Regions from separate parts of the Homo sapiens genome. Here regions 1 and 3 are each linked to region 2. Evidence: fine-mapped expression QTL. A gene starts in region 2. Each other region holds a variant in brackets. All regions are shown on one strand. Distances are between the middles of the regions. Region 1 has its middle 21 kb from the start of CLDN4. Region 2 holds the start of METTL27 (methyltransferase like 27). Region 3 has its middle 12 kb from the start of CLDN3.

Evidence for each region. PIP is the estimated chance that this variant, and not a neighbour inherited with it, causes the effect.
Region 1: its variant is the best candidate, but not a certain one, in a credible set for the expression of METTL27 in subcutaneous fat (GTEx, PIP 0.66).
Region 3: its variant is the best candidate, but not a certain one, in a credible set for the expression of METTL27 in testis (GTEx, PIP 0.82).

Annotation. Positions count from the first base shown.
Region 1 is chr7:73,808,685-73,811,440 of GRCh38, forward strand. No RefSeq gene overlaps it. Among named protein-coding and RNA genes, the nearest start is that of CLDN4, 21 kb to the right of the region's middle. The variant C/T (reference allele first, on the strand shown) is at 1,597.
Region 2 is chr7:73,841,409-73,844,164 of GRCh38, forward strand. It overlaps METTL27 (methyltransferase like 27), which reads right to left and starts at 1,108. Exons shown (of 6, transcript NM_152559.3): 1 at 1,082-1,108; 2 at 610-736. The coding sequence starts at 732. RefSeq lists an enhancer at 747-1,046 and a silencer at 1,167-1,266.
Region 3 is chr7:73,781,320-73,784,075 of GRCh38, forward strand. No RefSeq gene overlaps it. Among named protein-coding and RNA genes, the nearest start is that of CLDN3, 12 kb to the left of the region's middle. The variant G/A (reference allele first, on the strand shown) is at 1,179.

The DNA.
Region 1 (2,756 bases), 33 kb before region 2:
GTCTCGATCTCCTGACCTTGTGATCCACCCGCCTCGGCCTCCCAAAATGCTGGAATTACAGCCGTGAGCCACCCGGCCTGTTTTTTAAAAAAGAAAAATACAGTCCAGCTGTGGGGGCTCACGCCTGTAATCCTAGCACTTTGGGAGGCCAAGGTGGGAGGATTGCTTGAGGTCAGGAGTTCAAACCAATCTGGCCAACATAGTGAGACCCTGTCTCCAAAAAAGAAAAAAACAAAAAAACCAAAAAACTACGTAACTCAATTTGTGTTTTTCTTCCCGTGCAAAAAACAAAAAAACAAAAAGCCACGTAACTCAATTTGTGTTTTTCTTCCTGTGCAGTGGGGTCACTGGCGTTCGCCCCTCCCCAGTTGCCATTTCCCTGTCTCTGTTGCCCCTAGTCTCCTTACCTTCTCTGTCCAGCTCCCTGAAGCCCCTAAGCAGCCTCTTTTTTTTGAGACAGAGTCTTGCTCTGTTGCCCCAGCTGGAGTGCAGTGGTGCCTTCTCGGCTCACTGCAACCTCCACCTCCCGGGTTCAAGCTATTCTCCTGACTTAGCCTTACAGGCACCTACCACCACTCCCAGCTAATTTTTGTATTTTTAGTAGAGACGGGGTTTTGCTGTGTTGGCCAGGCTGGTCTCGAACTCCTGACCTCAGGTGATTCACTCGCCTTGGCCTCCCAAAGTGCTAGGATTACAGGCGTGAGCCACCGTACCCGGCCCCCTAAGCAGCCTCTTAAACTGGCCATCTGAGAAGCAGAACTCTTGAGGTGAGGAGTTTGGTTTGGGGCTCAGAGGGCCGCGCGTGTGTGGCCTCTGTCTGTCCGGGGATGGGGTGGGCGTGTTTGGCTTTCGAGGTGGATTCGTGCTTGTGTGAGAGGGTGTGTGTTTCTCATTCCTGGTATCCTCAGTTCCGGGCGTGGCGTGTCCCTCCGTGTGAGTGACGGTGGGAAGGTGAGGTGAGAGTGGCCAGGGCGGGGTGGAACTGTTTTCTCTCGGCCCGTCCAGGTTGGCTGCTTTTGGGTAATTCCCAGGCTCTGAGATGTCACAGAGCCAGGACGGGAGGAGTGAGTCACCCCCACCATTCCGCCATTGCCCTGGAGAAGCTTCTTCCCTGTCCCCAGGGCCCGGTTTCACTGGGAGCCATAAAAAGGCCCTGCCCAAGCTTGGTTTCTTCCGTTTTCAGCCGGACCTGCTGAAACCAAGCCTGGGGGCTGCCTGGGAGCGTGCCAAGGGCACTGCCCAGATGGGGCCCAGCCCAGAGGGAAACCAGCCCAGCAGGGACCCAGCTCCAGCTAAGGCCAGAAACCAGAGCCCACCCTTGGGGGCTGTTCTGTTCCTGGTCTCATCTGGTTTATACATATATATATATACACATACATATATATATATATACACACACACATACACATACATATATATATATACACACATACACACATATATATATATATATATACACACACACATACATATATATATATATATATATATTTTTTTTTTGACACAGTGTCGAGCTCTGTCGCCCAGGTTGGGGTGCAGTGGCATAATCTTGGCTTAGTTCAACCTCTGCCTCCCAGGTTCAAGTGATTCTCCTGC[C/T]TCAGCCTCCTGAGTAGCTGGGACTACAGGCATGCACCACCATGCCCTGGCTAATTTTTGTATTTTTAACAGAGATGGGTTTTCACCATTTTGGCCAGGCTGGTCTCGAACTCCTGACCTCAAGTGATCCGCCCACCTTGGCCTCCCAAAGTTCTGGGATTACAGGCATTAGCCACCGCGCCTGGCCACATCTGGTTTATATCTTAAGCCCCTCTGCCCACCAGGAGCCCCTTCCCCTGCAGGACTATGCCCCAGGCCCCCTCCACTCCCAGACTCCCCTCTGTAAGCTCCCCTTTCTTCCCTGAGCCCCATTCCTCTCCAAGAGCCCCCTCCCCTATCTGAAGCTCCTCTTCTCCTGGAGACCCTTCCCCTCCCAGTTCCCCCGCACCCCCTCCCTCCACTGCCCCTCCCTCTTAAAGTCCCCTACCCTTCTGTCCTGTCACTTCCCTGCCCTCTCGCTCCCTGGGGTGGGAGGGCCTGGCTTGGCGAGGCGGCTAAGAGAGGGGAAGGGGCTCAGGGTGGGGGCAGGGCATGTCTGGGGTCTGCCAGCTTGTCTTGGCCTGGCTGGCTCTCTATTCCATTATGAACATGTGGCTGGGGTTTCTGCCATCCTCCCAGGCCCTGGTGGGGTGGTTGGGGCTGAGAGGGTGATGGGGAGGGGAGGAGGAAGGGGCCGCAATGCCAATCACATCACCCCAGGGGCTCAGAACAGCTCCCGCCTCTCCTCCTCCTCCCCTTCTTTCTCGCCCCCACCCCCCTCCCCACCTTCCAGAGCCCATTAGCCCAGGGCTGCAGTGACACCTGCCTCCACTGGGGATCCTCCCCTACTCCTGGGGCCATAGCTGCTCCCCCAAGGGTGGGTTACCCTCTTGCCTTTTGACCTTCCCAGGGACCTGGCAGTCCTGCCCCTGGGTGGCCACCTCTTCAGCCTCTCCCAGAGCCTTGGCCACACTTGCTGTGCCGTCCGCAAACACCCAAGGGGGCACCGTGCCCAGTCCAGGAATCAGGCAGCCATCACCTTCCCAGCCAGACCCTGGGAAGGATAGACCCACAGCCTTAGCCATATACAGAGCACTGGGCAACTTTTACTTTTCACCATGATGAGCAACTTGTCAAAAGAATTTGCAAACAGACAGGTGCGGTGGCTCCCGCCTGGGATT
Region 2 (2,756 bases):
GACTCAGCCCTCCAGGGACCTTCTCTCCTGGCCAAGCGGCTCTCTCTGCTGAGTCCACATGACTTTTTTTTTTTTTTTTTTTGAGACAGAGTCTCCCTCTGTCACTCGGGCTGGAGTGCAGTGAAGAGATCTTGGCTCACTGCAACCTCTGTGTCCCGGATTCAGGCAATTCTCCTGCATCAGCCTCCAGGGTAGCTGGGATTACCAGGCGCCTGCCACCACGTGGGCCTGGCTAATTTTTGTATTTTTAGTAGAGTCAGGGTTGCACCATGCTGGCCAGGCTGGTCTCGAACTCCTGACCTCAGGTGATCCGCCCGCCTCGGCCTCCCAAAGGGCTTAGGATTACGGCTTGTGAGCCACCGCGCCCGGCCCCACAGTGACTTCTCAATAGCACCTCCTCCAGGCAGCCCCCCTCAGGAGGTCATGGCCCCTGATGGGGCTGCCAATCCAGAGCTGTGGGGCGGGTTCTGGAAGGGGCAGGACTGTAGGGTTCTTAGCCAGGCCTCACTTCGTCCTCACAGCCGCCCCCGGGTGCAAGGCTGATTCCCCACTTTACAGGTAGAAAAATGGAGGCTGGTCTAGTGGAGGCAAGGCCCCAAATGAGTTTACCTGGTCGTAGTCCGGAGCCCAGCGGTCATAGAAATGGAGCTTTTGGGCCAGGTCGGGGATGCCATGCGCGGCCCTGACCCGCGCCCGCACCTCGGGCAGGCTCCCACCCTCCTCCTGGGCCATGCTCCTGTGGGGACACCGTTGCCCTGTCTCGAGGTCCACCTCAATCGCCCATCCCCTCCTTTCCCCCTTCCCTCCTCCCCCTTCAGAGGAGGCTGCCAGGCCTCCTGCCAGCGCGACCCCTATCCCGGCCCCTATCCCAGATGGGGACACTGAGCGCAGAGAGGGCGGGCTTGGATATTTACACTCTGGGGCTGCAGGGCTGGGGGAAGGGCAAGGTGGGAGAAGGGGGTGCCCCGCGGCTGGAGGAAGGACCTATCTTCCTCTTTTCCGCCCTCCGACTGAGAGAGGGTCGGAGGTGGGCGACATCCGGAGCGAAACGGTCTCGAAGGAGGCCGGAGTCAGAACTCACCGCCAATCCAGCGCGCCTCGGGCGTGTGGGCAACAGGACTCGGGGCGGGGCCTGTGTTGCGACCCTGGCCACACCCTCACCGCCTGCCCGCAATGATTGGTTTTCCGCTGAGAGAAAATAGCCAGTCAAAGGAAGGCGCTGGCAGTCTGCCCGCCCCCCCCCCCCCCGCCAGCCAATGAGCTCAAGGCTTGTGGCCCTCCTCCAGCCTTGGTAGAGCAGGGACTGCGGAGATGTTTTCCTGCTGTGCGGGTTTAGGGGCTTCTCGGTGGTCTGGCCCCGGCCTCCCCCTCCACCGTCAGGTAGCAGCACCTCCACCATCCCCCTCCAACTGCCCTCCTGCCTCCTGAAGTCCTTTATGCTTCCTGAAAGCATGAGGTTTGTAGGCACTGGGGAGTCTCTGAATTCTTATGGGCAGGAGAGGGACCTAGGATTAGCTTTCATTTTTACTTTGTATTTATATTTACTTATTTTGTTTTATTTTTGTTTTGTTTTATGAGACAGGGTCTCACTCTGTCGCCCAGGCTGGAGTGCAGTGGCTTGACCATAGCTCACTGCAGCCTTGAACTCAAGCTCAAGCCAGCCTCCTGCCTCAGCCTTCTGAGTAGCTGAGTAGCTGGGACTACAGGTGCATGCCACCTTGCCCGGCTTTTTAAATTTTTATCTATTTATTTTTATCTTCGTAGTTTTTGTAGAGACAAAAAATGTTGTCCAGGCTGGTCTTAAACTCCTAGTCTCAAGCGATTCTCCCACCTCTGCCTCCTGGCAAATTTTATTTTAATAATTTTATTTTAAAAAACCGTACTGGCAAATTTTATTTTAATAAGTTAAATAGCCACATGTGGCTAGTGGCTACTGTATTGGACAGCAGAGAGAGTCTTGCGGCTGGAAGTGTGACCTGAAGATACGCAGCGTCAGCCTCCGTAACATCTTGGTTTCCTCTAGGAGATGCCCTAGGGAAGCTTGTGAGAAATGCAAAAATTAGGCCGGGGCGCAGTGGCTCACACCTGTAATCCCAGCACTTTGGGAGGCTGAGGTGGGCGGGTCACTTGAGGACAGGAGTTTGAGACCAGCCTGGCTAACAGGACAAAACCCCATCTCTACTAAAAATACAAAAATTAGCCGGGCGTGGTGGCGGGCATCTGTAATTCCAGCTACTCAGGAGGCTGAGGTGGGAGAATAGCTTGAACTTGGGAGGCACAGATTGCAGTGAGCAGAGACTGCGCCACTGCACTTCAGCCTGGGTGACAGAGCAAGACTCCATCTCAAATAAAAAAAAAAAGTAAAAATTCTCAGTTGACCTGGGACCTTCTGAATGAGAATTAGATTTCTGGGACTGGGGCCCAGAGTTTCTGTGTTTCTACAAACTCTGCAGGCGATTTCTAGGCAGCTGAAGGTTCAGAAGCGCTGGTCTAGAGGACCTGTGTTGGAATCAAGGGTTTGGGCAGGCAGAATTTGGCAGGCTGTTGCAGGTGTCCAGGCAGGAGGTGATGGTTGCATGACCTTGGGTAGAGGTCATGACTGCGGAGAGGAGTGGGTGATCTTCAGAGATGTTTAGGGGGTAGAAGTGTCGAAGTGTCAGAGATGTTTGAACCAGAGCAACTCCATCTTGAATAGCGGCTGAGTAAAATAAGACTGAGACCTACTGGACTGCATTCCCAGATGGTGAAGGCATTCT
Region 3 (2,756 bases), 60 kb before region 2:
TTAATCTCAAGTTTTTTTTTTGTACTGTCTTTGTCTAATTTTGATATCAGGGTAATACTAAATAAAATGAACTGGGAAATGTTCTCCTTTCTTCTGTGTTCTGGAAGAGACTGCATAGAAATGGTGTATTAGGCCTTTCTTGCATTGCTATAAAGATATACCTGAGACTGGGTAATTTATAAGAAAAGAGGTTTAATTGGTTCATGGTTCAGCAGGCTTTACAGGAAGCATGGTGCTGACATCTGCTCGACTTCTGGGGAGGCCTCAGGAAGCTTTCAATCATAGCAAAGTCAAAGAGGGAGCAATCACGTCACATGGCAAAAGGAGGAAAAAGAGAGAGAGTGCAGGGGTATGTCACATACTTTTTTTTTTTTTTTTGAGTTTTGCTCTTGTCGCCCAGGCTGGAGTGCAATGGCATGATGTTGGCTCACTGCAACCTCTGCCTCCTAGGTTCAAGCGATTCTCCTGCCTCACCTCCTAAGTAGCTGGGATTACAGGTGTGCACCACCACGCACAGCTAATTTTTGTATTATTAGTAGAGACAGGATTTCACCATGTTGCCCAAGCTGGTCTCAAACTCCTGATCTCAAGTGATCCACCCACCTCAGCCTCCCAAAGTGCTGGAATTACAGGTATGAGCCACTGTGCCCAGCTGCCACACACTTTTAAATGACCAGATCTGATGTGAACCCAGAGCAAGAACTCATTCATTACCAAAAGGATGGCCCAAGCCATTGATGAGGAATCCATCTCCATGATCCATACACCTCCCATCAGGCCCACACCTCCAACACTGGGGATTACATCTCAACATGAGATTTGAGTGGGGACAAGCATCCTAACTATATCAAATGGTATTAATTCTTCTTTAAACGTTTGGTAGCATTTTCCAAAGAAAATTAGGCCTGTTGATTCTTTTCTGAGTTTTAAAATTGCAAATTTAATTTCCTCAATAGATATAAGGCCACTCAAATTATCTATTTCATAATAGATGGGTTGTTGTAGTTTGTGTTTTTTGGGGGAACTGGGCTATTTTAACTAAGTTGTTGAATTTATGCGTTCCCTTATTCATAGAGTTGTTCATAGTGTCCTCTTATTATCCTTTACGTGTCTGTAGGATCTGTCGTAATAGCCTGTGTTTCATTTTTTTTTTTTTTGAGACGGAGTCTTGCTCTGTC[G/A]CCCAGGCTGGAGTGCAATGGTGTGATCTCGGCTCACTGCAACCTCCGCCTCCAGGTTCAAGCGATTCTCTTGCCTCAGCCTCCCGAGTAGCTGGGATTACAGGCGCCTGCCACTATGCCCAGCTAATTTTTGTATTTTTAGTAGAGACGGGGTTTCACCATGTTAGTTAGGCTTGTCCTGAACTCCTAACCTCAGATGATCTGCCCGCCTCAGCCTCCCAAAGTGCTGGGATTACAGGTGTGAGCCACCATGCCCAGGCCCATGTTTCATTTCTATTGATAAATTGTGTCTTCTTTTTTCTGTTGGTCTTGCTAGAAGTTAGTCAATTTTACTGATTTTTTCAGTTACTTTTTTGTTTCATTGATATTTTTCTATGCAAAAAAATTTCTGTTTTCAATTTCACTAGTTTTTGCTCTTATCTTTATATTTCCTTCCTTCTACTTGCTTTGTATTTATTTGGCTCTTGTTTTCTAGGTTCTTCTATTCTTTATTTAGATTTTTTATAAAGATGGAGTCTTGTCTTGCTCTGTCACCCAGGCTAGAGTACAAAGGTGCGATCATAGCTTATTACAGCCTTGGACTTCTGGGCTCAGGCAACTTCTTCTTCTTCTTTTTTTTTTTTTGAGACAGTTTTGATCTTGTTGCCCAGGCTGGAGTGCAGTGGTGTGATCTTGGCTCACTGCAACCTCCACCTCCTGGGATCAAGTGATTCTCCTGCCTCAGCCTCCTGAGTAGCTGGGATTACAGGCGTACGCCACCACGCCCAGCTAATTTTTTGTATTTTTAGTAGAGACGGGGGTTTCATCATGCTGGCGATGGATTTTAGGTGTGAGCCACTGAGCCCGGCCAAAGGCTCAGGCAACTTTTGCCTTGAACTTCTGCCTCAGCCTCCCAAGTGACTGGGACTACAGGCATGCATCACCACACCTGGCTTTTTTTCTAGGTTCTTGATGTGACAGATTAGATTATTGATTTGGGACTTTCCCTCTTTTCTGATGTATGCATCTAATGCTATAAATTTCCTTATCAGCATTGCTTTATGTGCGTGCCACCATTTGGATATGTTGTATTTTAATTTTCATTTACTTAAGTGTATTTTTTGAAAATACACAGGAGGAAACCTATGATTTCCTCTTGAGCTATGGATTATTTAGAAGTATGTGGTTTGGTTCACAAGAGTTTGCAGATCTTCCTGTTATTTTCTTTTCTTTTCTTTTTTTTTTTTTTGGGATGGAGTCTCGCTCTGTCGCCCAGGCTGGAGTGCAGTGGCTTGATCTCGGCTCACTGCAAGCTCCGCCTCCTGGGTTCACCTCATTCTCCTGCCTCAGCCTCTGGAGTAGCTGGGACTACAGGGGCCTGCCACCACGCCCGGCTAAGTTTTTGTATTTTGTTTAGTAGAAATGGGGTGACACCGTGTTAGCCAGGATGGTCTTGATCTCCTGACCTCGTGATCCGCCCACCTCGGCCTCCCAAAGTGCTGGGATTACAGGCGTGAGCCACCGCGCCCAGCCCTCTTTTTCTGTTATTGGTTTCTAGTTTGGTTCCAGTGTGTGACAGAATATACTCTATATGATTTC